7 linked regions of the Homo sapiens genome follow. The protein of the gene in region 3 purifies or fractionates together with the protein of the main gene of each other region. This does not show direct contact. Each region holds a gene or a part of one and is shown on either strand. Other genes may lie near its edges. The genes, in order: MR1, ABHD17B, TMPRSS11B, LRFN3, DIPK1A, TM9SF3 and SLC16A10.

The links.
Region 1: the proteins of TMPRSS11B (region 3) and MR1 purify together in Homo sapiens (affinity purification with mass spectrometry; 2 studies listed by BioGRID and IntAct, with this or other methods). This does not show direct contact.
Region 2: the proteins of TMPRSS11B (region 3) and ABHD17B purify together in Homo sapiens (affinity purification with mass spectrometry; 2 studies listed by BioGRID and IntAct, with this or other methods). This does not show direct contact.
Region 4: the proteins of TMPRSS11B (region 3) and LRFN3 purify together in Homo sapiens (affinity purification with mass spectrometry; 2 studies listed by BioGRID and IntAct, with this or other methods). This does not show direct contact.
Region 5: the proteins of TMPRSS11B (region 3) and DIPK1A purify together in Homo sapiens (affinity purification with mass spectrometry; 2 studies listed by BioGRID and IntAct, with this or other methods). This does not show direct contact.
Region 6: the proteins of TMPRSS11B (region 3) and TM9SF3 purify together in Homo sapiens (affinity purification with mass spectrometry; 2 studies listed by BioGRID and IntAct, with this or other methods). This does not show direct contact.
Region 7: the proteins of TMPRSS11B (region 3) and SLC16A10 purify together in Homo sapiens (affinity purification with mass spectrometry; 2 studies listed by BioGRID and IntAct, with this or other methods). This does not show direct contact.

The regions. Positions count from the first base shown.
Region 1 is NC_000001.11:181,040,483-181,043,982, reverse strand, and holds part of MR1 (major histocompatibility complex class I-related protein 1 isoform 1 precursor), read right to left. Parts: intron 1-3,500. UniProt on the Homo sapiens protein: Antigen-presenting molecule specialized in displaying microbial pyrimidine-based metabolites to alpha-beta T cell receptors (TCR) on innate-type mucosal-associated invariant T (MAIT) cells.
Region 2 is NC_000009.12:71,869,694-71,873,193, forward strand, and holds part of ABHD17B (alpha/beta hydrolase domain-containing protein 17B), read right to left. Parts: intron 570-3,500; coding exon 390-569; intron 1-389. UniProt on the Homo sapiens protein: Hydrolyzes fatty acids from S-acylated cysteine residues in proteins. Has depalmitoylating activity towards DLG4/PSD95. Has depalmitoylating activity towards GAP43. Has depalmitoylating activity towards MAP6. Has depalmitoylating activity towards NRAS.
Region 3 is NC_000004.12:68,235,695-68,239,194, forward strand, and holds part of TMPRSS11B (transmembrane protease serine 11B), read right to left. Parts: intron 573-3,500; coding exon 457-572; intron 376-456; coding exon 308-375; intron 1-307. UniProt on the Homo sapiens protein: Serine protease.
Region 4 is NC_000019.10:35,942,874-35,946,373, reverse strand, and holds part of LRFN3 (leucine-rich repeat and fibronectin type-III domain-containing protein 3 precursor), read right to left. Parts: intron 1,827-3,500; coding exon 1,355-1,826; 3' UTR 1-1,354. UniProt on the Homo sapiens protein: Cell adhesion molecule that mediates homophilic cell-cell adhesion in a Ca(2+)-independent manner. Promotes neurite outgrowth in hippocampal neurons.
Region 5 is NC_000001.11:92,841,667-92,844,064, forward strand, and holds the end of DIPK1A (divergent protein kinase domain 1A), read right to left. Parts: coding exon 1,717-2,398; 3' UTR 501-1,716; downstream 1-500. Other genes in the region: RPL5 (large ribosomal subunit protein uL18), read left to right, coding at 100-199.
Region 6 is NC_000010.11:96,531,513-96,535,012, reverse strand, and holds part of TM9SF3 (transmembrane 9 superfamily member 3 precursor), read left to right. Parts: intron 1-1,822; coding exon 1,823-1,962; intron 1,963-3,500.
Region 7 is NC_000006.12:111,227,003-111,230,502, reverse strand, and holds part of SLC16A10 (monocarboxylate transporter 10), read right to left. Parts: 3' UTR 1-3,500. UniProt on the Homo sapiens protein: Sodium- and proton-independent thyroid hormones and aromatic acids transporter.

The sequences.
Region 1 (3,500 bases), on a different chromosome or scaffold from region 3:
CAAAAAAAAAAAAAAAAAAAAGATCAGACAAAAAAAAAAAATCAGCTCACAAAATAGTTGGATTAGCTTCTGTGCTACAAGTTTGTTTATATTTTTCTTTTCTCTAAAACTGCTTATGAAATAACTCATAATGTGCAGGTTATCTTTCAGAACTGACCACCCCAAGGCCAGGGTACCCTTACCTTGCATACTAGGAAAAACAAGAGGCCCTGAGAGGTATCTCCCAGAGCAACTGATTGTACTAGTTAGTGTATGTATGTGTGTGCATATGTGTGTGTGTGTATGACAGGGTTTTACTCTGTTGCCCAGCTGGAGTGCAGCGGCATGATCACAGCTCACTGTAGCCTTGAATTCCTGGGCTTAAGTGGTCCTCTCACCTCAGCCTCCTGAGTAGCTGGGATTATAAGCACGTCACCACTTCTTTTTAATAGAGACAGGGTCTGTGTTGCCCAGGCTGGTCTCAAATTCCTGGCCTTAAGTGATCCTCCCACTTTGGCCTCCCAAAGTGCTGGGATTAGAGATGTGAGCCACCACGCCCAGCAATTAAAATCATTGTTAGCACTTCTTTCTCCTTGCTCCTGGAGCTGGGGTGTAGCAGTTTGGCAGGGTTCAGAGTAGGTATCCCCGCCCCATGGGCTCCTCCCTCACAGGTGTTATCCTGCATGTCAGCTGCAATACTGAACAGGATGGAGGCTGGCCTCCCACAGGCTGGGGCAGCATAAGGTCCCAATGTCCCTCTGTATTGCTTTGACCTTTTACTTCCCCCTTCCCTTCCTGTGGTGGGTGAGGGCTTGGGTTGGGAGGGAAGACAGTGGAAGCCTCTGGGGTAGTCATGAGAGCCTCTTCATAAAAGTGTTGGTTCTTATGCAAACAAGAGCCAGAGATTGCATCAGAGCATGAGTTCTGTCGTAAAACCAATAGCTACCAGATTCTGCCTTCTGTTTCCCTCTGCTTACTACCTTCTACCTGCTTCTCAATCTTAAAGCACTTAAGAACAGGGACTTTGCTTTTTTCCTTTGTATTTCCTGCAAAGCTTAGCACAGGGAGCTTGGCACATGGTAGTAGCTTGGTAAATATTGGGTGAATTAAATTGTTGGTGAAACACTTTATTTCTGTGGTTTGGAATAATGAAATATGCTGAAATGAATATGAATCTATTTAACCTGGATCTTTTTTGAGACAGAGTCTCATTCTGTCGCCCAGGTTGGAGTGCAGTGGCGTGATCTCGGCTCACTGCGGCCTCTGCCTCCCTGCTTCAGGCAATTCTCCCTGCCCCAGCCTCCCAAGTAGCTGGGATTACAGGTGCCCACCATCACGCCTGGCTAATTTTTGTATTTTTTTTTAGTATAGACGGGTTTTTGCCACGTTGGCCAGGCTGGTCTTGAACTCCCGACCTCAGGTGATCTGCCTGCCTTGGTCTCCCAAAGTGCTGGGATTACAGGCGTGAGCCACCGCACCTGGCCTAAAAAATATTTTTGATTTGGCCGGGCGCGGTGGCTCACGCCTCTAATCCCAGCACTTTTGGAGGCCGAGGTGGGTGGATCACCTAAGGTCAGGAGTTCAAGACCAGCCTGACCAACATGGAGAAACCCCATCTCTACTAAAAATATAAAATTAGCCAGGCATGGTGGCGCATGCCTGTAATCCCAGCTACTAGGGAGGTGAGGCAGGAGAATCGCTTGAACCTGGGAGGTGGAGGTTGTGGTGAGCCGAGATCGCGCCACTGCACTCCAGCCTGGGCAACAAGAGCGAGACTCCATCTCAAAAAAAAAAAAAAAAAAATTATCTTTGATTCAAGGGAAGGCTGGTGAATGGAGAGTTGAACTGCAATCTGGGATCTGCAAAGGGTACTATATATATTCTGCAATTGATTTTGAAATAGTTCTATTTTTTCACATCTGGAAAGTTTTGTGGCTACACTGGAGGTACACAACTGTCTAAAGAAGGAGGACCCAAAAGGAGGAACAAGTTGTGAATATTAGTTCTCACACTTCCTTAATATTGATTTGTATATCCAATGCTTCTTCTGTGCCAGCCACTCTTCTAGGCCCTAAGCTTGTACCAGACCAAACAGATAAAAATGTCTGCCCTCATGGAGTCTACACCCTAGTCGGGGGAAGGGGAGAAGACAGACTAGAAAATAAAATATATAATTTTTTTAAAGTACAGTGAAGAAAAATAAAACTGCAAAGAGGAATGGGCAACACTATTTAAAAAAGGAAGGCGTATTAAGGAAGGTTTCCCACAAAGCTGAATTCTGAGCAAGTGCCTGCAAGGAGTTGGGGAGACAGGCAGGTGTCTGGGGACAGCAGTCTGGACAAGAAGGGCCATGCAAAGGCCCCTGGAAAGAACATGCCTGGCACATTCCAGGAGCAGCACAAAGGCCTGTGGCTGGAGTTGAGGGAGTGAGGGGAAAAGAAAGAGGGAGGAATCACTTCCATAGTTTTTCATGGGAAAAAATCCCCACGGAGAGCAGACTCCAGACAGAGAATGTGGAGAGGAGAAAAAAGAAGGAAGAAAAAAAGATGCTGTGTTGCTGAGCTAAGCTGGGTTGGTGTAGAACATCCCCTGGAATCTGGGTTTTCTATTTTTATGATCTCTGAGGTCTACATTCCTGATAGATGCCAACAAGCAAAAAAACCTCCAGTATTAACAACTTGGGGCATTAGTGCCCAATAGCAGGATTTATTCCAGTTAAGTATCACCAGCATCATCTCCAAACATAATATTTACAATTCATGTAACTTTGCTTTCTTATAAAAATGTAATTTTCACAAGAATTTGCATTATCTGAAGTTAAAAGAGGTAGATAGAGAGAAATATGGTCTGTTGACAATACTGTCCAAGTAAGTATTGTGCTTTATTTATTTATTTATTTATTTATTTATTTATTTATTTATTGAGACAGAGTCTCACTCTGTCACCCGGGCTGGAGTGCAGTGGCACAGTCTCTGCTCACTGCAACCTCTGCCTCCCAGGTTCAAGCGATTCTCCTGCCTCAGCCTCCCAAGTAGCTGAGATTACAGGCGCCTGCCACTACACCCAGCTAATTTTTTTATTTTTAGTAGAGATGGGGTTTCACCACGTTGGCCAGGCTGGTCTTGAACTCCTACCTCATGATTCCCCCTGCCTTGGCCTCCCAAAGTGCTGGGATTACAGACATGAGCCACCGTGCCTGGCTGTGTCTTTCTTTCTTTCTGGGTTTTTTTTTTTTTTAACTTCAATCTAATTCTGATGCCTGGTTTTGAAACAGTTGTTCTCCACCAGCCAGCCTTGACTTCAAAGTCCAGGCACCTAAAGGCTGGACTTGCTTTTTCAGTCACACCCATCCACCACTGGTTCAGCCCAGCGTGGCTCTGCTCCAGGACATCACAGTCCCTTCCTCTTCATTTGCCATGGGCCCAGTTACCCATCTGGTGCCTCCACAGGAACAAGTCATGCTTGCTCCTTAGCTGGGCCTTTAAAATGTTACCTCTGCTGTGGTGGGAAGTTGATTGACA
Region 2 (3,500 bases), on a different chromosome or scaffold from region 3:
TCACTGGATGGCCCTATCCATTAGCACCTCAGGGCAGAAACATGGTAGTCATGTTCAAGTTTTTCTCTTTAGCATCCTACACCCAGTCTGATACTCAGTTCTGTCAAATTTATGTTTCAAATTAATTCCCTTGTCTCCAATACTAGTGCCACCACCTGAGGTGTAAGGCCCTCAGCAATTTTCATCTGGATTACTACTCCTCAAACATTTCAGCCTTCTGACTGGTCACCTGCTAATACCCTCTTTACAAATTAATTTTTCATAATTTCTATGTGCTAATATATATAAAATGAAGTTTATGGTTGAGTGAACTGTGTCATGAATACTTTAAATGATGAAAAAATTCCCAAGTTTCTTGGAATTTAACTATTTTGAATATTGCTACTTACTTTGGGAATGCATCAAAACAGTAGGTCTTCTTGGTATCAGGAAAGGCAACTCGCATTCCCGAAGTCAGAGGAGAATGAAGAATAACAGCAGCACTCTCATATCGAGCAGCAAGATCCACAGACGGTACTGTCCCTATACTTTGGCCATATATAATCACATTTTCAGGGCGAATGCCATATCTACAAAGTTCAGGCGTTAAAAACAAAAACCAAAAAAGTTGGAGTGATATGAAATGTTCCATCATTCCAAAGGATTTGATCTTAGAATAAGACAATGTCAACTAATCCATTTTTTAAACTTAAGTTTCTTAGCTATTACTGTTAGTTTTAACATTACAATAAAGTCTGTATCATCAGTTTATTTCATGTGTTTCTCTACTTCATCTTTTGGAAGAATAATTGCTGAGGTATTTTAAGATTTCAATCTTAAGAAATAAATTTATTAAATAATTTATTACACTATAATATTTCAACCTAGCTTACTGCTGACTAAGCTTGGGGCATATCACTAATATTTTAATGAACTGATGTTGAATGAATAGGTCATATTTATTTTCCGTTCAGTGTAACAAAAGTTATTTATTTCTCCACACATCAAGAGTGGCTCATTTTAATTTCCAAAATTGGTCATATTGATGAACTGTTACATATAGTTATGGTATGAAATGAATATATGTATGGTTTTAGTAAAGGGCAAATTATGATTTTACGATTTTTCTTAAAATTGATCTTTGCTTAGTTGTAGAAATGGACTAATGGTTGAAAAGATAAAAAAGAATTCCAAACACCACATGGTCCAATTATTTATGATTAGACTTTACGCTAAAATTACAAGGTACTATTTTAATCCCTTTAAAATGGCCACAGGTTTAAATAGATGAAAACTCATTGACTCAATAAATATTTATTGGGTACCTAGTATGTTCAAGGAACTGCTTGCTACTTGTCTACAGTATAATCATCCCAAATGTAAACTACTGCAAGTGTAAGTACAGTGCTACCTGAGCTAATGAATGTGGGCTTAAAGGTTATAGTGACATTAAATACACCTTTCCACTTAGAAGGCAGACAGCAGTCACTCTGGCAGCTAAGAACATAACAGCTGCTTTTGGAAATCTTTTGCAAAGGTAAAATATCTTTCTAAGAATCTGGATATTCACCAGGAAAGAGCGAGGGAAACTGTCCGTGTGTTCTCTTCCAGGGGCATAATACTATTTCAACTATACAGGTAGTAACACAGCTCTCCCCATATAGTTTCTTCAAGTCAGTACTACACAAGCATTTGTATAGGACACAGAAAGTGGGGCTCTGTCTACTTCAAATTGACTCTAAATATTAGCAAACTCAGAAAAGCTTTTTTCTTTACAACAGACCTAGTTGCACATATTTCATACGAATGAAGAAATTAGGAGAATGAACATTTGCAGCATGACCACAGTTCTTGAGGCTGCATTGTTGCTGTCAGCTGAATATCAGCATTGTTGGTGGCAATCATGAAATTTGGGCTACAGCTAGCAATGACAATGCTCAAGGATAGAGTCGCAGAGGTAGCTGACAATTAAGCATGAGGGGACTCACAAGAGTAACAACTGCCTAACAGTATGAGCTAGAAAGGAGTTTAGAGACCATCTAATCTAGAGTCCAGCTGCCTAATGAGCAGATCTTCAAAGTCACCAGTAGATGACAGCTCTATAATTAGAACCCAGGTATACTGACTCCCAGTTCAGTGTTTTTTACCTCTGAAGCACACAGATGAGGAACTCAAGGACTTTGTGGGAAAGGTGCATAGTGAATGCCAGGCCCCGAGTTTCTTTTGGTCCATCAGAAGGTCAGAAATTGGAGTTATTATGGATATCCAATTTTCCCAAAAAGGACATTCCAATGTTCATTCATCCCAAAAATGAACATTATTTAAGTTCATTATTTATTTTCTCTCTCCTGGTTACTTAAGTCCTAACTTTTAATCAGGCAAATAAAATAAAAGGCATGTATTCTAATTACACACATTTCATTAGATGACAGAATTCCAGAATTGGAAAAGATCTTGGGGATCATTTAATTCAATCTCTTCATTAAACAGATGAGGAAACACAGGCTCAGAGAAGTAATATTTCCTAAAGTACCTACACTTATGAAACTCCAACTATATTTTGGTTTCAACACGAAAGAAAACACAGGTCTAAAATTCTAAAATATAAGTGCTAAAATAGTATGTGGGATTATTGATGAAATCTGCCCATTCCTGATTAACACTGGCTATCAAATATGTTAAAAAAATTAAGGCTGAAAATCATTTTTCAAAGTTTTCTTCAAATTGGTAAATGCCAAGATTAAAAGAAAAGAAAAGAAAAAAACAGTAAAGTTGACCACTTAAAAAATGGGATTTTTTCATATAGACACAGAACACTGAACTGAATACTAACATGTTTTGTTTGAGTAAAGTGACCCTTTTGCGTTACTGGGAAGCACTAATAATGAAAGCTGGCTATCAGTTTTAACTTAGCACCCTTTAAAACTTCATTATTCCACTGAAGTTAACCTTTAAAAGTGTGAACCTTATCACTCAATAAAGCTATTTTTTTAATTATAATACTTTCTTATAGTTGTTATACGTTATTCAACTGACTGACTCTAAAAAGTGGGCACTCAGTTTCTGTTTGTTTTAAGGCTTGATGGAACTGATATCAATATATGTAAAAGATTTTTATTTAAAGCAGTTTTTAATTTATCAATTAAACAATAACTTTACCATCCCCCATCAACTCTTTACCTACTACTTGCCATCTTTTTTTCCTTATTCCCCATATTTATGTTTTTATATAATTTCAGTTGATTTTAAGAATCCCTTTTATGTAGAACTTCGCTATGAGAGCATAACTTTATTACATTTCTTTGGAGGGAAAAATAGTTTTAAAGATATTTTTAATATCTTTAATAATATTAACTACTTTATTATTAAAATTGAGGAAATTTTTCCTGACTAAATGAAATCTTTAATATTTAAACATTAAATTAGAAACAGTAAGTTTTCTTTATATCCTATAGCTTCAGTCTAAAACATCCTGGAAGTCAGATATTTTATTTTCATATAATATAAAGAATAGCCTATAT
Region 3 (3,500 bases):
AGTTAGGACTGACCACCACCAATAACCTTATAATTCTTTTGCAGGTATAAGATTAAAGATTTGTATATAATGACTCTTGCCCAGAACAGAAATTTGCTAGATACAATGATACTTTCATTCATGGAGAACTTGATCTTTCTTTTTCTTTTTTTTTCTATTTCCTTCGTTCCTTCCTTTCTTTCTTTCCTTTCCTTTGTTTCTCTTTTTCTTTATGTTTGTTTTTTGTTGTTATTGTTATCTAAAATCAAGGTTGTATGATATATCACCTACTTTCCTTTCATAAAATCTTAAATGAACTTGTACTTACAGAAGTTTGATGACCTCAGATTTGACATATTCCTTATATATACTGGAATTTTGAAATGCATTTAACATCTGACAAGAGAAAAAAAACAGTCATCATGTATGTTTCAATCAAATTTATAATAAAATTAATTTTAAAAATCTCTGATTTACCTTAGTCTCAATATCTTTGCTTAGATTTGTGCTGGCTTGTGAAGCTGCGTTTTCACAATTATCATTGTATGTGACTCCAGAAATATGAAAATCACCTTGATAATAGTAAGTCTTCTCTGCAAAATTAAGAAAAAAAAACCTCAAAGAATTTTAAAGTGGAAAGTGACTTTAAAGCGATTTATACCTCTGCCTCAACATTCCACCCAGCTTTAGAAATAATCCATTTATACCTCTGCCTCAACCATTTATACCTCTGCCTTAACATTTATACCTCTGCCTCAACATTTATACCTCTGCCTTAACCATTTATACCTCTGCCTCAACATTCAACCCAGCTTTAGAAATAATCCAAGGGAGGGAGAAAAATAAAAGGAGAGGAGTGAACAATTGTTTATTCCAGAAATGGCAACTCCATATCATTCATTCAATGATCCCCGCTTTCCCTTTATGTGATAATAGACATTACTGTCCTGCTAAGTCCAGATATACCCTCAGCACCCTCCTCAAAACAGCAATGCCCACAGTCACTAACAATCCACCTGAGTATGCACTAGATATAAAACATCTTTTACATGTATAGTCTAAACTCAGCCTAGCAATTACCCAATTAATCTTTCTAAGCAATTCTAATACAGGAAACATACAAGCATCAGTCACCCTTCACTTTCTGGATGATATACACTGTCTTGCACCCTTTTGTATGCCCTTTGCCTGCTGGCCTGGTTTCCATTCCTTGATGTTATTCCTGGAGGACACCATGGTGCCATTATTATTATTATTATTATTATTATTATTATTATTATTATACTTTAACTTCTGGGATACACGTGCAGAACATGCAGATTTGTCACATAGGTATACACGTGCCATAGTGGTTTGCTGTACCCATCAACCTGCCATCTACATTAGTTATTTCTCCTAATGCTATCCCTCCACTAGTGCCTCCACCTCCCTGCCAACCCTGGTGTGTGATGTTCCCCTCCCTGTGTCCATGTGTTTTCATTGTTCAGCTCCCACTTATGAGTGAGAACATGTGGTGTTTGGTTTTCTGTTCCTGTGTTAGTTTGCTGAGAATGATGGTTTCCAGCTTCATCCATGTCCCTGCAAAAGACATGAACTCATTCTTTTTATGGCTGAATAGTACTCCATGGTGTATATGTGCCATATTTTCTTTACCCAGTCTATCATTGATGGGCATTTGGGTTGGTTCTAAGTCTTTGCTATTGTGAACAGTGCTGCAATAAACATAAGGGTGCATATGTCTTTATAGTAGAATGATAATGATTTATCATCCTTTGGGTATATACTCAGTAATGGGATTGCTGGGTCAAATGGTATTTCTGGTTCTAGATCCTTGAGGAATCATCTCACTGTCTTCCACAGTGGTTGAACTAATTTACACTCCCAACAGTGTAAAAGCATGGTGCCCTTTTATTTCCCTACAGCATATGATGGGTGGTGCTTTGTGTGAGTCACAAGGTCTCATATCCCCATCTTTTCCTTTCCCCAAATATAAACTGCTTCACGTGATACATTAGGTCACCATAATTTAAAACAGGACAAGCCTCTTAAAAATAGGAATTACCAAGATGCAGTGGATTATGCCTATAGTCCTAGCAGTTTTTGAAGTCAAGTTGGGAGGACTGCTTGAGTCCAGGGGTTCAAGACCAGCCTGGACAGCATAGTGAGAGCCTGTCTCTACAAAAAACTTAAAAAATTTGCTGGGCATGGTGGCACGTGCCTGTAGTCCCAGCTACTGAGGAAGCTGAAGTGGGAGAATTGCTTGGGCCCAGGAGTTCAAGTCTACAGTGAGCTGTAATTGCACCACTGCACTCCAGACTTGGTGACAGAGTGAGACCCTCATGTCAAAAAAAATAAAATAAAAAGAACTAATATGAAAGAATACCCTGTTTTGGTTAAGTAATTAGCCATTCCTGTATTTTGAGAGCAATTGTGCTTTTGATCCACCTTTAACATACACCATGTAGTCTCTAAGTTACTGAAAAGTATGATCTCCTAAGCTGAAATAATTTATTACCCTGTAAGTTAGAAATAATTTTAAAATAAAATAAAAACTGATTTCCTATATTCCTATAGATTCTTATATTTTTCCTTATGGTAACCAATATATACAAAAGTCCAATGCCAAAGTCTGTCTGAGAAGTTACCTGAAAAGATGAATGCATATGAAGCTAGAGGAGCTAGTTCCAGCCCCATCACAAATCAGCTGTGCTGTCTTGGCATATTTAGCCCGCTGGGATTTTCTTTATTAATCACAAAAACTAAATTGCAGCCTGGTGCGGTGGCTCCCAGCTGTAATCCCAGAACTTTGGAGGCAGAGGTGAGAGGATCACTTGAGGTCAGGGGTTCAAGACCAGCCTAGCCAACATGGTGAAACCCCATCTCTACTAAAAAAAAAAAAAAAAATTAGCCAGGAGTGTTGGCGAACGCTGGTAGTCCCAGCTACTTGAGAGGCTGAGGCGGGAGAATTGCTTGAATCTGGGAGGCAGAGGTTGCAGTTTGCTGAGGTCACACCACTGCACTCCAGCCTGGGAGATAGAGTGAGACTCCATCTCCAAAAAACAAAACAAAACAAAAAACAAAGAAAAACAAACAAAAACTAAATTACAATAGATAAACTCTAAGACCCTCTTCTTTCTACTATTTTATCATTTTCATCTGTGAAGCTTGTCACCAAATGACTAAAGTAAATAATTAGAATCTGCTAACTTTGTGTTACATCCAGAATACTGAACCAGGGTATTTACAAGTAGGTAGATTAATTTGTCAAAAGTCTCATACATCATGCCCAGATTCTGAGAAACCATTATGTTTAGATTTCTGATTCCAGTTATAATTTTACTGGAGAATTCTATCAGTTCAAGGTACCATTTTAAAATTAATTTTCACTTGATTTTTACTGTGGATTGAATTGTATCCCCTCCAAAATTCATATGTTGAAGCCCTAAACACCAATGTGACTGTATTTGGAGACATGATCTTTAAGGGAGAATTATGGTTAAATGGGGTCATAAGGTTGAGAC
Region 4 (3,500 bases), on a different chromosome or scaffold from region 3:
TAGTGAGACCCCATCTGTAAAAAAAAAAAAGAAAAAAGAAAAAATGTCCCATAGTGGGGACTTGGAATCATCCCCCACAAGAAGCCGTCTTAACCCCAGCAGCGTCAGTTCCCATCTCTGCTGACAAAGCCCTCATTTCTATTTCCAGCTTCAGCCTCAGACCAGGGGTCCTGCACCCTCCTGAATGCCACATCCTGGACATCCTCAGGGCCCCCTACACCTACCAAGTTCCCCACTGGCCATATCATCTTTCCCAAACCTGCTCCTCCTCCCTGGTCCTATATGAGGGCAGTCCCCACCATCTTCCTGCCCCACCCCATGGCCCCGCAGCTCCATAACCCACCGCCTCAGCTTCCCACAGTTTCCCGAGTGTCTCTGTCAACCCACTCCCTTTTCTTGTTCCCTAGCCCAGCTGGTCCAACTTCGTCCTCACCCACCCAGGTCCCTGCCCCAGCTTCCCCTGGGGCTCCCAGCTTCAGTCTTCCCCTTGGGTCCACCCTACTCATAGCACTAGAAGGATCTTCCTGAAGCCCCAAACTGACCCCATTCCTCCCTTGCATACAACCCTCCATGGCTCCCTGGTATCATCAGGCCAGAGTCTGAGCTCCTCAGCCTGGAGGTCCTAGACCCTGCTCAACCCTCCTGCCTCACCTCTACCATAGCACCCCCAGTGCCCAGGGCACACCACCACCTTGCTTGTGCTGTGCCCTCTGCCTGAAAGAGCTTTCCTTCTGCTCTTTGCCCAGTTATCTCCTTCATATGTCATTCTCAGATCACATGTGTCCTCCTCCAGGAAGCCCTCCCTGACCACACCTGGGGCTGAGCAAGGGTACCTCTTCTGGACTGTCACAATCCCCCAGGCTTCCCTCATCCCCACATCCCTGGTCACTCTGTGCTATCACTGTCTGGGGATGTGTCTGTCTCCCATTTGACTTTAGGCCCCTGCGGGCAGGGCTCAGGGCTATCTGGATCACCACAGCATCCCCCAACCCAGGGCATGCTCAGAGCCGACACGCAGGGAACATCTATTGTCTGAATGGATCGCCATCCTCAGCCTCCTCCGGGGTCCTCAGACTGAACTGGGCGGGGAGGGGGTGTCTCCCCAAAGGAGGCATTCCCCAGCTCCAGACCCCTGCTCCGTCCCCCAACCCCCATAGACAGAGACGAGGGCAAGGGTCTTCGCCCAAGCTTGGAAAAATAGGACTTTCTTGTTTTGCCCCGGTGTCCCCGACACCCTCCCCATCAGAGTTTTAAAAACCATGAGCGATTTGGTGAGTTTGAGGCCAGGTCCCACAGGGTGTCCGGGTCCTGCTGTCCGTGGGGCCAGAGGACCCTTAGAGGGGGGGGCGCCTGGCTAGGGTCCCACAGGTTCGTGGCCGGGCCCCCAGGGCTCGCAGTCCAGCTGGACCACGGTGTGGGCCCTGAGCGCCGCGGGCTCCGGGGCGGGCGGGGCGGGCGTGGGCGTGGGGCCCAGGGCGCCGTTGGTCTGGGAGCAAACGCTGCTAACAGGCGCGGGAATCTTGGCCTTGCCGGGGGGCTGGCCGCCGTGCACCTTGTAGCGCATTAGCAGCACGAAGATGAAGACCAGTACCGAGGCTACGATGACGCCGCCCAGCGCGATGATCATCGTGCCGCCCAGGAAGGGAGCGTGCGGCGCCCCGCATGGCCGCAGCGCAGGTTCGGTGGAGAAGCGGGCGCAGCCCACAGGCCGCGTGGCCGTGAGCCCCGTGGCGCTGTCCTCATACACGGCGAGCACGCACAGATCGTAGGTCCGGCCTGACGCCAGGTCCGTCAGCAGGAACGAGCGGCTCTCCGCCGGGATCATCCTGCAGGGCAGGCAGGTGGGGGTCAGGTCTCAGGCTGCCCAGCCCCCAACCTGTGCTTCCCCCACCAAACTCCCTGCGGGGCTAGACTTCCCACCAGTCCACTCCTTCATTTCATTCTACCCAATGAGCTCCCTCTCACCAACATCCCAATTCCCTTTGGTCTGACATCCCATTCAGCCACCTGACTGATACCCCTCCAGTCTGTTGGCCAATTTCACTCTAGCCCACCCTCTCACACGTCCTCATAGCCTGCTGCCCATTTTCACTCTAGTCCCACCACCCAATTTCTCTAACAGCTCACCACGTGAGTTCTTCCAATCCATCCTGTTTCTTTTCTTTCTTTCTTTCTGTTTTCTTATAGACAGGGTCTTGCTCTGTTGCCCAAGCTGGAGTGCAGTGGCATGATCACAGCTCACTGCAGCCTCTGACTCCTGGACTCAAGCCATCCTCCGGCCTCAGCCTCCTGAGTAGCAGGAACTACAGGTGTGCACTACCATGCCCAGCTAATTTTTAAATTTTTTGTAGAGACAGGCTCTTGCTATATTGCCCAGGCTGGTCTCAAACTCCTGGCCTCAAGGCAGTCCAGCCTCCTGCCTTGGCCTCCTTAAGTGTTGGGATTACAGGCGTGAGCCACCACACCTTGCCGGTTTCATTTTATACCCAACTGCCCAATTTCCCTTTTGCACTGCCCACTCAATTTCCCTCCAGCCTGCAGCCCAGCTCCGCTCTAGCCTCCCTGCCCAATTTTGCCCCAATCCTCTGCCTGATTTCACTCTGGTCCCACTGCCAGTCATCTCTCCAGTTCACCACCCAATTCTGCTCTAACCCTGTCCAATTTCCATCTAATTTAATCCTTTTGTCTTCTAGCCACCCCCATCCAATTTCCCCCACATTTTACCTCCCAGTCTCCTCCAGACGCTTGCCAATTTCCCTCTGGTTCCCCTATTTCCTGCAGCCTATGCCAAATTTCCCTTTTCCAGCTGCCTGATTTTCCTCTAGTGTACAGCTAGGATTCTCTCCAATCAAACCACCTGATCTCCCTGTACCCCTGTTGCCCGATTTCCTTGTAACCTGCCAATAAATGTCCCCCTAGCCCTATTGCCTTATTATGATGACTGTATTGATAGCCTGTTTTCCAATGAGTCCTGTCGTCTGATTCCCTTTTCATTAAACTAATGTGCCTCCGTCACTACTGCTTTCTTTTTCTCCCTGTTGCCTTATTTCTTTCCGGCTCTGTCACCTGCTTCTCTTTTATCTCTGTTGGCTGGTTTCTATTTATCTTTTTCTTTCTTGTTTCCTTTTAATCCTTACCACCCAATTTCACTATAGTTTCTTTTGTAGTTGGGCACCCTGTTGGAGAGTTGACTTATCACCTGTTTTATTCCTAGGCTATTCTAATGAGAGAGGTACAGGGAACTCCGTGGCCGCCTGGGGCAGGGTGACTGTCTAGGACAGCATTCATCCCATTCCCCACCTGGCAAGGTGGCCAGGACTTGTGTGACTTTTTTTTTTTTTTTTTGAGACGGAGTCTCACTCTGTCACCCAGGCTGGAGTGCAGTGGCACAGCCTCGGCTCACTGCAACCTCCGCCTCCCAGGTTCAAGCAATTCTCCTGCCTCAGCCTCCTGAGTAGCTGGGACTACAGGCGCGTGCCACCACACTCAGCTAATTTTTT
Region 5 (2,398 bases), on a different chromosome or scaffold from region 3:
AATATTCTCTATCAAAATTAAATTTTATTAAAATTTTAAATTAAATATTCTATTCTCTTCAGTTATAGTTTAAAAAATATATATTCCTATCTTTTGTAGGTGGAACCGTCCCAAAATGTCCCTTGCTCAGAAGAAGGATCGGGTAGCTCAAAAGAAGGCAAGCTTCCTCAGAGCTCAGGAGCGGGCTGCTGAGAGCTAAACCCAGCAATTTTCTATGATTTTTTCAGATATAGATAATAAACTTATGAACAGCAACTATTTCTGTGTTAAGCTCTTATTCTTATGAACCTTATAGGAAATACCCTGAAATATTTTGGAAAAGCAAAGGAGTTGACAGGTTTTTTTCTCCAAGAAAACAAGTGTAACTAACTTTTTAAGAAAAAAAGTTGTTATTTCTTGGGCTTCTGTTTTACCTGACAGGAGTCATTATCCCTTATGTTGTATGATGAACAGCTCTCCCTAAAAATTTGGCAAGCAACAGACCAACCATCAGTGGGAAATATTTCTTCCATCCATTTATTATAACCAGATGATGAATGGGAAAAGTACCTTAAAGTAAACAAAACTGGTGCTAATCCATGGCGTTGAAGGAAAGTTTTGAGAGAAAGCTGTCCAGTGATGGTCACATAGATTTTTAACATGTTCCACTTTAGGTAGGCGAAACCTTTGAGCAGAAAATAGTGGTTCTTTTCTCCAAAAGGTGTTTAATTTTATGGAGATGTTGAAAGGTACATGCCAAATCTGAGTATACGTGTGAAAATAATATGAAAGAGGAGCAAATACTAAACCTTGTATATCAAGTTTACATGGGGAAAAAAACATTAGATAAATAAATACATTTACATGCCTCTTTAAGAAATAGCCCTTTGGCCCACAGGATATACTGTTTGAAAATGGAAAGTTATTACTAAAAAGTCTGCTATAATTTATTTTAGTCTTGCACTTACAGTCCCACTTTCACATAGTTCAAAATCAGGATATGTGGATCTTGATTGGGCCTTAAGATGTCAGTTTTGAAGGGCTCAGTCAGCTGCGTGATACTAAGATGGGCCCTTTGAATCTTTAGGAAAGTTCATCCATTTTTAGTCAATAAAATTGGTGTACTGTCAAGTATAAGATTTCTTGAAGTAAGCCACTTGAACCATTGTGAAGCTACACATAACTTGATGTCTGAATGAGGTTAAAAATGGGTGTATAAGTCTTTAATACAGTAAACCATGCTATTAACCCAACATCTGTTTTATAAAGAAGCAAGTTTAACCTGCTTTGCAGTCTTAATTTCTGTTAATGTGCAAACTTTACCATGCTAAGACATTAGTAAATTTATAAATTTTCTTGTTGAACAGCAGCTTCAATGCAAACACAATGCTTCCAGCATTGGTATTTTGGCTAAGGTAAATCTACAAATCACTCACTGTTGATGTTTATGGAATGAAGCTTTTCACAGCATTGGTTTTTAAAGTCAGTCAAAATAGTTACACAATGAATGTACTTCGGAGATGTAACAGGGCTTCTAAAAGGGCAGGAATGACATCTTGGGGACCTGTTGATCCTACACCTGCCATTACTTCAGTGATCACATACTGATGGCTTCTCAGGCCTGGGGGGAAGGAGTTTTGTGTAACTGGCCGGAATTTGAAGCCATTTTTTTTTAATGCTCAAAATTGTTCTTTAAAAGTGGCAGGTTTCTTAAAATGGTAATTATGTCCAAATGAACTAAGAGTCATTAGTGTAGGAAATTTTCTTCCACAATAATGTTTTTAGGTTATTTAGTATCAAAGAATGTTCCATTTCCATTTGATTTGCTGTGACTTTGAGAGCAATACAAGAATAAAGCTGCTTTTCTAATTCTTCACGAATTTCACTTGGAGCACCACGCAGTAGGTAGTCTTTGAGTAACTGACAAGCTTTTGCCAAGTTTGGTTGTATCACTTCTGAAGTACACTTCATTGTACTCTGATCACAGCTAGTTCTACAATCTGTGCCATAGACACAGTCCAAATCAGACTCACAGTGACGATCCTTAATAAGTTCTTTCAGGTTTGTCTCTGGCACAATTTTTCTCATATCCACCATTTTCAAATCATACTTATCATTATATCCTAGGTTTTTGGCACTAGTATCGCACATGAGGAAATTTCCGTAGGGGCCATGGAAAACATCTTCCACAAATTCTAGAAGTCCTATGGCTATTTTGGCCTTTCTTGGCCATGATGGTGTGAACAGCTGATCCATGCTTCTTCTGAACCCAGATGGAATAAAAAGTTCAATGACCCAAGGAAGGCTTATTCCATAAAGAGAGGTATATTCAACACTTTCCATCACATAGAGGTCACCACAGAATCCCATTAATTTGGGGGTATGTTCTTTATCTTGAAGTATCACCATGAGAAGAAAT
Region 6 (3,500 bases), on a different chromosome or scaffold from region 3:
TTTTTAGTGAACAAATATGTGCAGGCCTTAATTGGGATGAGGTGAAGGAGATAGAATAAAAGACCAATATAGCATTACAAGCCTTCCTAATCAATGACAAAATTCATTCAGTTCAGTATATACACAGAGATAAGCAGGAGAAACTTTATTCTGAGATTTGCATGAAAATGAGTTAACCTGGCTGTGATATCTCCAGTATACTGATATTTGGTATAGAACTCCTTTGAGCTATATATATCTTATTACAGTTGAAAGTGTTTTAAAAAGAAACTATTTTCAAAAGGATACTCAAATCAAATGCTTGTGGAATCCCAGAAGCTCTTCAGTAGGACCTGAGAGTTCTTTGGAACAGTTTGAAAACCATTCTTCTAGACCATGTAATTCAACATAGGAATGTTTTCTTCATTTTCTCTGTAATTCTTATTTGAAATTAGAGTTCTGGTAAACTAAGGGAAAAATATATAGGTCTTTATTACAATGTGTTAAGGTTTATGAGTCTTGTAGTTATTAAGAAAGTAAAAGCAAAAATTGAGATGGAATTTATCACTCCCCATATTTACGACATATGTATAGTTCATAACATAATGCTTAAACTATCTTAAAAACACCTGCTTATTTTTCACATTTCACGTATTTTAATATGAGCATAAATTCATATTATTCATAGGCCTAGGCCTAAACTGAAACGCAGATAAATTGAGTTCCTGAGTCTGATGTTTAAAATGGTATTATGGAGCTCTGTAATTCTCACATATTTATATTTGATCTGAAAAGGAGATGACAGTACCCTTTGGCTTGTTTAAAAACACATATACACACACAAAAGGATCTAATGAAGAATTTTTACTAATATTGGTTCAAAGAGATCTTTCCTTCTTGTGCAATCACTGTGGATTTCCTACCCCATACCTCTTCATTTCTCTCAATCAGTGTCTTCACATGTTTCATTCAGTTTTTCTCTCACTTTTACTTTCTATTTATTATAACCTAAAGTGTATAATTTAAAGACATCTTAGAGGTGATTCAATTCTACTCCATTTTACAGAAGTTCAGAGTGAAATGATCTTAATTAGATGGTTGGCCGGAAAAGAGCTGATTTTATAAAGAAAAAAAGTCACAAAAATAAATGTTTCTAATTGGCCACTTTGGTTCTAAAATCTCCGTATGGTCTTCTCTGTAATTTTAGACTTTGCACTACTAATGGGCAGGAAAATATTTGTACTATTTTACTAGTGACACATAGATAGCGATCTCCTTCTATTAGGATTCCAAGGTAGTGTAGGATAGAAAAGAGTGTGGGCTTTGAGGCTGGCAGATCTGAGTTGAAATTTTGGTCTGGCTCTCCACTAGCTATGCAATTATGGGAAGTTACTTATCCTTCTCTGAGTCTCCTTTCCTTCATTTGCAAAATAAGAAAATAACACATATAAAGCTCTTAGTGCATTTTATGAGCTCAAAAAGCATAGCCAGATAAGTAAGTTGGTTATAATAATGAAAGACAATGGATAAATATATTAAAAAAGCATGACAGCTGAGAGTGAAAGAGGAGAAAAAGGGATTGTGGCAGAGATAGTCTGGAAGAATAGGAAAGAATGGAAAACCAAATTGGATAAGAACTAGTTCAACTTGTATTCAGTTTAGTTCTAATACTTTAAAGCACACCTTTTTGTTTTCATTAGTGTACTTCTTGCACAATTTTAGCTCATATTGAACTTAAACATTTTCTTTTGTGGTCAAATTGTGTTTAAATTGTGTCTCTTTTATTTGTTTATATTAATGTTATTGTTCTCTGAGTAATCACACATTTTTATTTAATTTACAGGTGGCCGTTTGTTGCATCTGTTTTTTTGTTATTCTTCCTCTAAATCTTGTTGGTACAATACTTGGCCGAAATCTGTCAGGTCAGCCCAACTTTCCTTGTCGTGTCAATGCTGTGCCTCGTCCTATACCGGAGAAAAAATGGTAAAGAGAATGCTAAATCTTATGCGATTGTTTCACACAATATATAAGTTCTTAAGGCTGTTGTGTACATGTAACTTTAGAATTGGTATGTATTTATGATAATGACAATCTTAAGTTTGAGCCTAAGAAGTTCATTTTACTATTTCCTTTAACCTACATTGTTAAGAGTAATAATAAATTATACCCTTATTCCACTTTCTGAATATCGTGCCATTTAGAGTTAAGTCAAATGCTTTTCTATGGTGTAGAAGTGGGTGTGAACTAAAGCTGCAGTTTTACTAATCTGCAGGCCAAATCTGGCCTGCTCCCTGTTTTTATCTATAAAGTTTTGTTGGAACTCAGCCATGCCCATTTGTTTACATATTCTCTGTGGCTGCTTTTATAGTACAGCATCAGAGCTGGCAGATCAGTAATGTCAGAGATACTATCACATGCAGAACCTGAAATATTTACTATCTTTCCAGATATTTTAGTACTGTACAATTTAGTGTACATTTATTACATTCCCTATTTATAGGAATAGTTGTATAGTAAGTAGACTGCATTTTTATGATAACGGAGATATATATATATAAAGTCTCTGTCCCTAGATATTTTACCAGATTATAAATACAGCATATTCAGGTGCTTATACAAATAGGTGATAATTTTGCTCTGTCCCTTCTAGACATGGAGGCATGTAGACATTTATAGAAATGGAGGATGAATAAAATAGCCCCTATAGTTTGAATTGGCCATATTCTTTTCTTTCCTTAGATTGGTGCTTATGAGAGACTTTAGTTAGAACTTTTGTAGTTTATTATTTTATTTATTTATTTATTTTATTATTATTATTATTTTTGAGATGAGGTCTCACTCTGTGGCCCAGGCTGGAGTGCAGTGGTGTGATCTCGGCTCACTGCAAGCTCCACTTCCTGGATTCATGCCATTCTTCCGCCTCAGCCTCCCGAGTAACTGGGACTACAGGTGCCCGCCACCACGCCTGGCTAATTTTTTGTATTTTTAGTAGAGATGGGGTTTCACCGTGTTAGCCAGGATGGTCTCGATCTACTAACCTCGTGATCTGCCCACCTCGGTCTCCCAAAGTGCTGGGATTACAGGCGTAAGCCACCACGCCCAGCCTGTAGTTTATTTTTTAAAGTAATTTTTTTTTTGTAAATCAGTATGTTAGGACCCATCAATATCCTTACTGGGAAGGGTAAGTTTAAAGGAAAAGCATAGTCAGAAGTCACAAAAGTTCCTCTAAGTCACTAGGGCCAGTGAAGGAGAGGTCTGGTGAGAGCTTCCTCACCAGAGATGCATTGCAATTAGGTATAGGAAGGCTTGTGTGTGCCTCTGTTTTGGGGAGTATAATCCTGGGAACCTAAATCTGAATACTAGATCTGCCTCTCATTGACTGTGTCACCTTGGGCAGATCACTTTTAACCTCTGTGTCTTGGCTTCCTGTAAAGTAAGGAAAGAAGACTACATTAAATGATTTTTAAGTTTTTTTTTCAGCTCTCAAATTTTACCATTTTCTTCTCAGTTTTTTAGTTTGT
Region 7 (3,500 bases), on a different chromosome or scaffold from region 3:
GCAAGCTTCCATTCTCTCTGCCAAATATAACTCATGTTAACGTAGAAAAGTGTTATCATTAGTTACCAGAGCAAATCCAGTGTACTGGATTGTGAATGCATAGTCTTTCTAATTAGGAAAATGAGAGTGTGTATTGTCTTCTTAATTTACATTTATAAAATCCTCATAAAATACAGTTAAGTCAGGGTCTTTTAAAAGAGAAGAATTCAACTGAAACCTGTCATTCTCTAGCCGGGCATGGTGGCTCATGCCTGTAATTCCAGCACTTGGGGAGGCTGAGGCAGGTGGATCACTTAAGGCCAGTCTGGCCAACATGGTGAAACTCCATCTCTACCAAAAATACAAAAATTAGCCGGTGTGGTAGTGGGCACCTGTAGTCCCAGCTACTCAGAAGACTGAGGCACGAGAATCACTTGAGCCCGGGAGGCGGAGGTTGCAGTGAGCTGAGATCGCGCCACTATATGGAGCCTGGCAATAGAGCAAGACTCCATCTCAAAAAAAAAAAAAAAAAAGAAACAAAGAAAGAAAAAGAAACCTGTCATTCTCAATTCATCTGAATCCTACCTACAGAACATTAAAGAGACCCGTATGTCTCGAACTCCTGGCCTCAAGCAATCCGCCTGCCTTGGCCTCCCAAAGTGCTGGGATTACAGGTGTGAGCCACGGCGCCTGGCCAAGGAGACCCATATGTTATTTTACTTAGGTGTTACACAATCAGACCAACGATGGTGCTGAGAGCCCTTGATAAATCATAGACCTGAGATTTGCTGACAGTGACCCAGCCGCAGTACTTATTGTTTATGTTAAATCTGAAAGACAAACAATGATACTTTCAGTGATAAATTTCAAATAATTATAAAAATATAACTGTGCAAATAACTCATTATCCATGTTTTAAGATTGATGACTCTCAAAACTCTGATTTTAGCCTGAAAGTTGCGAAATAGTTTCAAATGTCCAAATGTCTACATAAGCCAGCTCAATAGGAAGCTATTATATATAACTTTTTCACATTGCCTCAAAGTTACAGAATATATTTAAATCCCTCACTTTGTGCTAGAAACATTGACAAGGGACTTTTTCTTTAAAATTATTACCTTGGGAGGTTGTGTTCATTAGAACATTCTCATTTGGTGATCATTTTCTTGTGAGTTTCGTAATTTAAAGTCTTATATGTTAACAAAAATTGCATACCTCTAACTAGATACTGGAACTCAATAATCACTGTATAGGTGAGCTTTTTTCCTCAGTCATGTATATAACATGCAACATGCATAACGTTGCTGGCTGTATACATTTTCTATTGTGTTGTATATTAATATTTTTAAAAGAAAAATAATTTTGAAAGGAACATGAAGTATAGCACCAATCTTGATCTAATAATCTTTGGTAGAAAAAAAAGAGGCACCAACTATACAGTCTGTTCATAGTCCAGGGTCAAAATGCAGCACTATTTTTTTTTTTTTTTTTTTTGAGACAGAGTTTTGCTCTTGTTGCCCAGGCTGGAGTGCTATGGTGCAATCTTGGCTCACTGCAACCTCCACCTCCTGGGTTCAAGCAATTCTCCTGCCTCAGCCTCCCGAGTAGCTGGGATTACAGCATGGAGCCACCACGCCCGGCTAATTTTGTATTTTTGGTAGAGATGGGGTTTCTCCATGTTGGTCAGGCTGGTCTCCAACATCTGACCTCAGGTGATTCGCCTGTCTCGGCCTCCCAAAGTGCTGGGATTACAGGCATGAGTCACCGTGCCCGGCCCAGCACTATTAATAACAAACCCTCCATTCCTGAAATAACATTTCAATATAGACTGAATTATGAAAGATACTTTGACTCATTAGGGAAGATCACAGTAGAAAGGTTTTGTGTTTACACATTTAAAATATTTAACAAACTGACTCTTCTAATGACGGATACTGAAAAATATCTAGTAAAGAATAAAAGTCATACATCACAGGCTCCAAAATAGTATTACCAATCTAATTTGAGTTCTAAGTGTTATTTTATATTGGTAGTTCCTATCGCATACATGTTTAGGGACATTGAACTCCAAAATACTCTTTTTATAGCACTCATATTGAAAGGCAAAGCAACTTCTTTGGGTAGACTGGGTTAACTCCTACACTATTGCCACACTCAAGAACAGCATTTTAAAAAACTCCAGTGAGTCAAAAATTCATTGTCCCAGTCCTTGTTCTACTAGGAAGGAGTGTCTCTTACAGGAGTTTAATGTGTAAGTTGTCAGGTTTGGGCACAGCTGTACAATCTGTCATCACTGATCATCTACCCTCTTGCCAATGAAAACAAAACTTTTTCATAATCAAGCTTCCAGTGTAACTTGAAAAGCCACTGGCGAAGCATTCTAAGTGTTCATTAGAATCTGAGTGTGTCTAATTTAGAATCTAAGTGTATCTAGATTCTGAATTTCTTCAGGTTTTTCTTTGTCAGATCCACAGGCCATATTAGTTGTTATTCCTTTTTTGTTACTTTTACATCCGTTTATCAGAACAAAGCACTTAAGAAATTTTACTGATATTTTGACCCCACTAACAATTTGCACCCCCCTTGCTTTTTAATCCCAGAATCACCATTAGCTCCCTTCTGATGAAGCAGGAGTTGACTCAGCTGGGCTTTCAGCTGGACACGGAAAGCGGAGGTAGATGAATTGTCATGATCAAGTGGGTGTCATCAAGTACTTAGAAAGGTTTCATTTTGTTCCTACTGTCTTTCCAACTTACTAATAAAAATATTGAAATCTATTTCAAAAATGAGGTAGCCTCATGTTATTTTATATCTGTCAGGAATATAGTACCATGGGGAATTTTATTTCCCCAGAAAGCAAGATTACACCCCTTTAGTATGGAACACTGAACTTTAAAAGAGGTGTCCTTGAACGTGTGGAAGTGAAGACAAAGTTTACGATTTAAAATTTGATAATTTTAAAAAAGGCAAGCTAAGTAAACTACGTCCTGAGTTTCAAGATTTTTCTGAGTGATTCAAAGATGTCATGAATTTTCCAGGAGTCTTTACTGTCTCAGGAGGAGTCATCTGATAAAATGCACATTGATGGTGGGTCCATAATTGTGGTTCCGACACTTATGCAAGCTTCACACTTAACTGCGAGCATTCGGCTTTGTTCTTGAGAATCGTGACCTATTGTTCTATAGTATATTTATAACACAAAGCATTAATCTCTGCCAACTAATAATAAACAGGTCGTGGCTATGAAATTATAGTGAGCCCAGGGCCTGCTTGTCTACCTTGTTATTATTTGCTCCAGAACCATTCTTAAATTCAGCTCTAGACAGTCTTTTTAGACCAAGCTATCAACAAAAGTCAGCATGTATAGTAGAGCAGAACAAATTTTTTTTTCCTTTTTGTAGACAAGGTCTCATTTTGTCACCCAGGCTGGAGTGCAGTGGTGCAACCACAGCTCACTGCAGACTTGACCTGCTATGCTCAAGCAATCCTCTTGCCTCAGCCTCCTGAGTAGCTGGGACTAC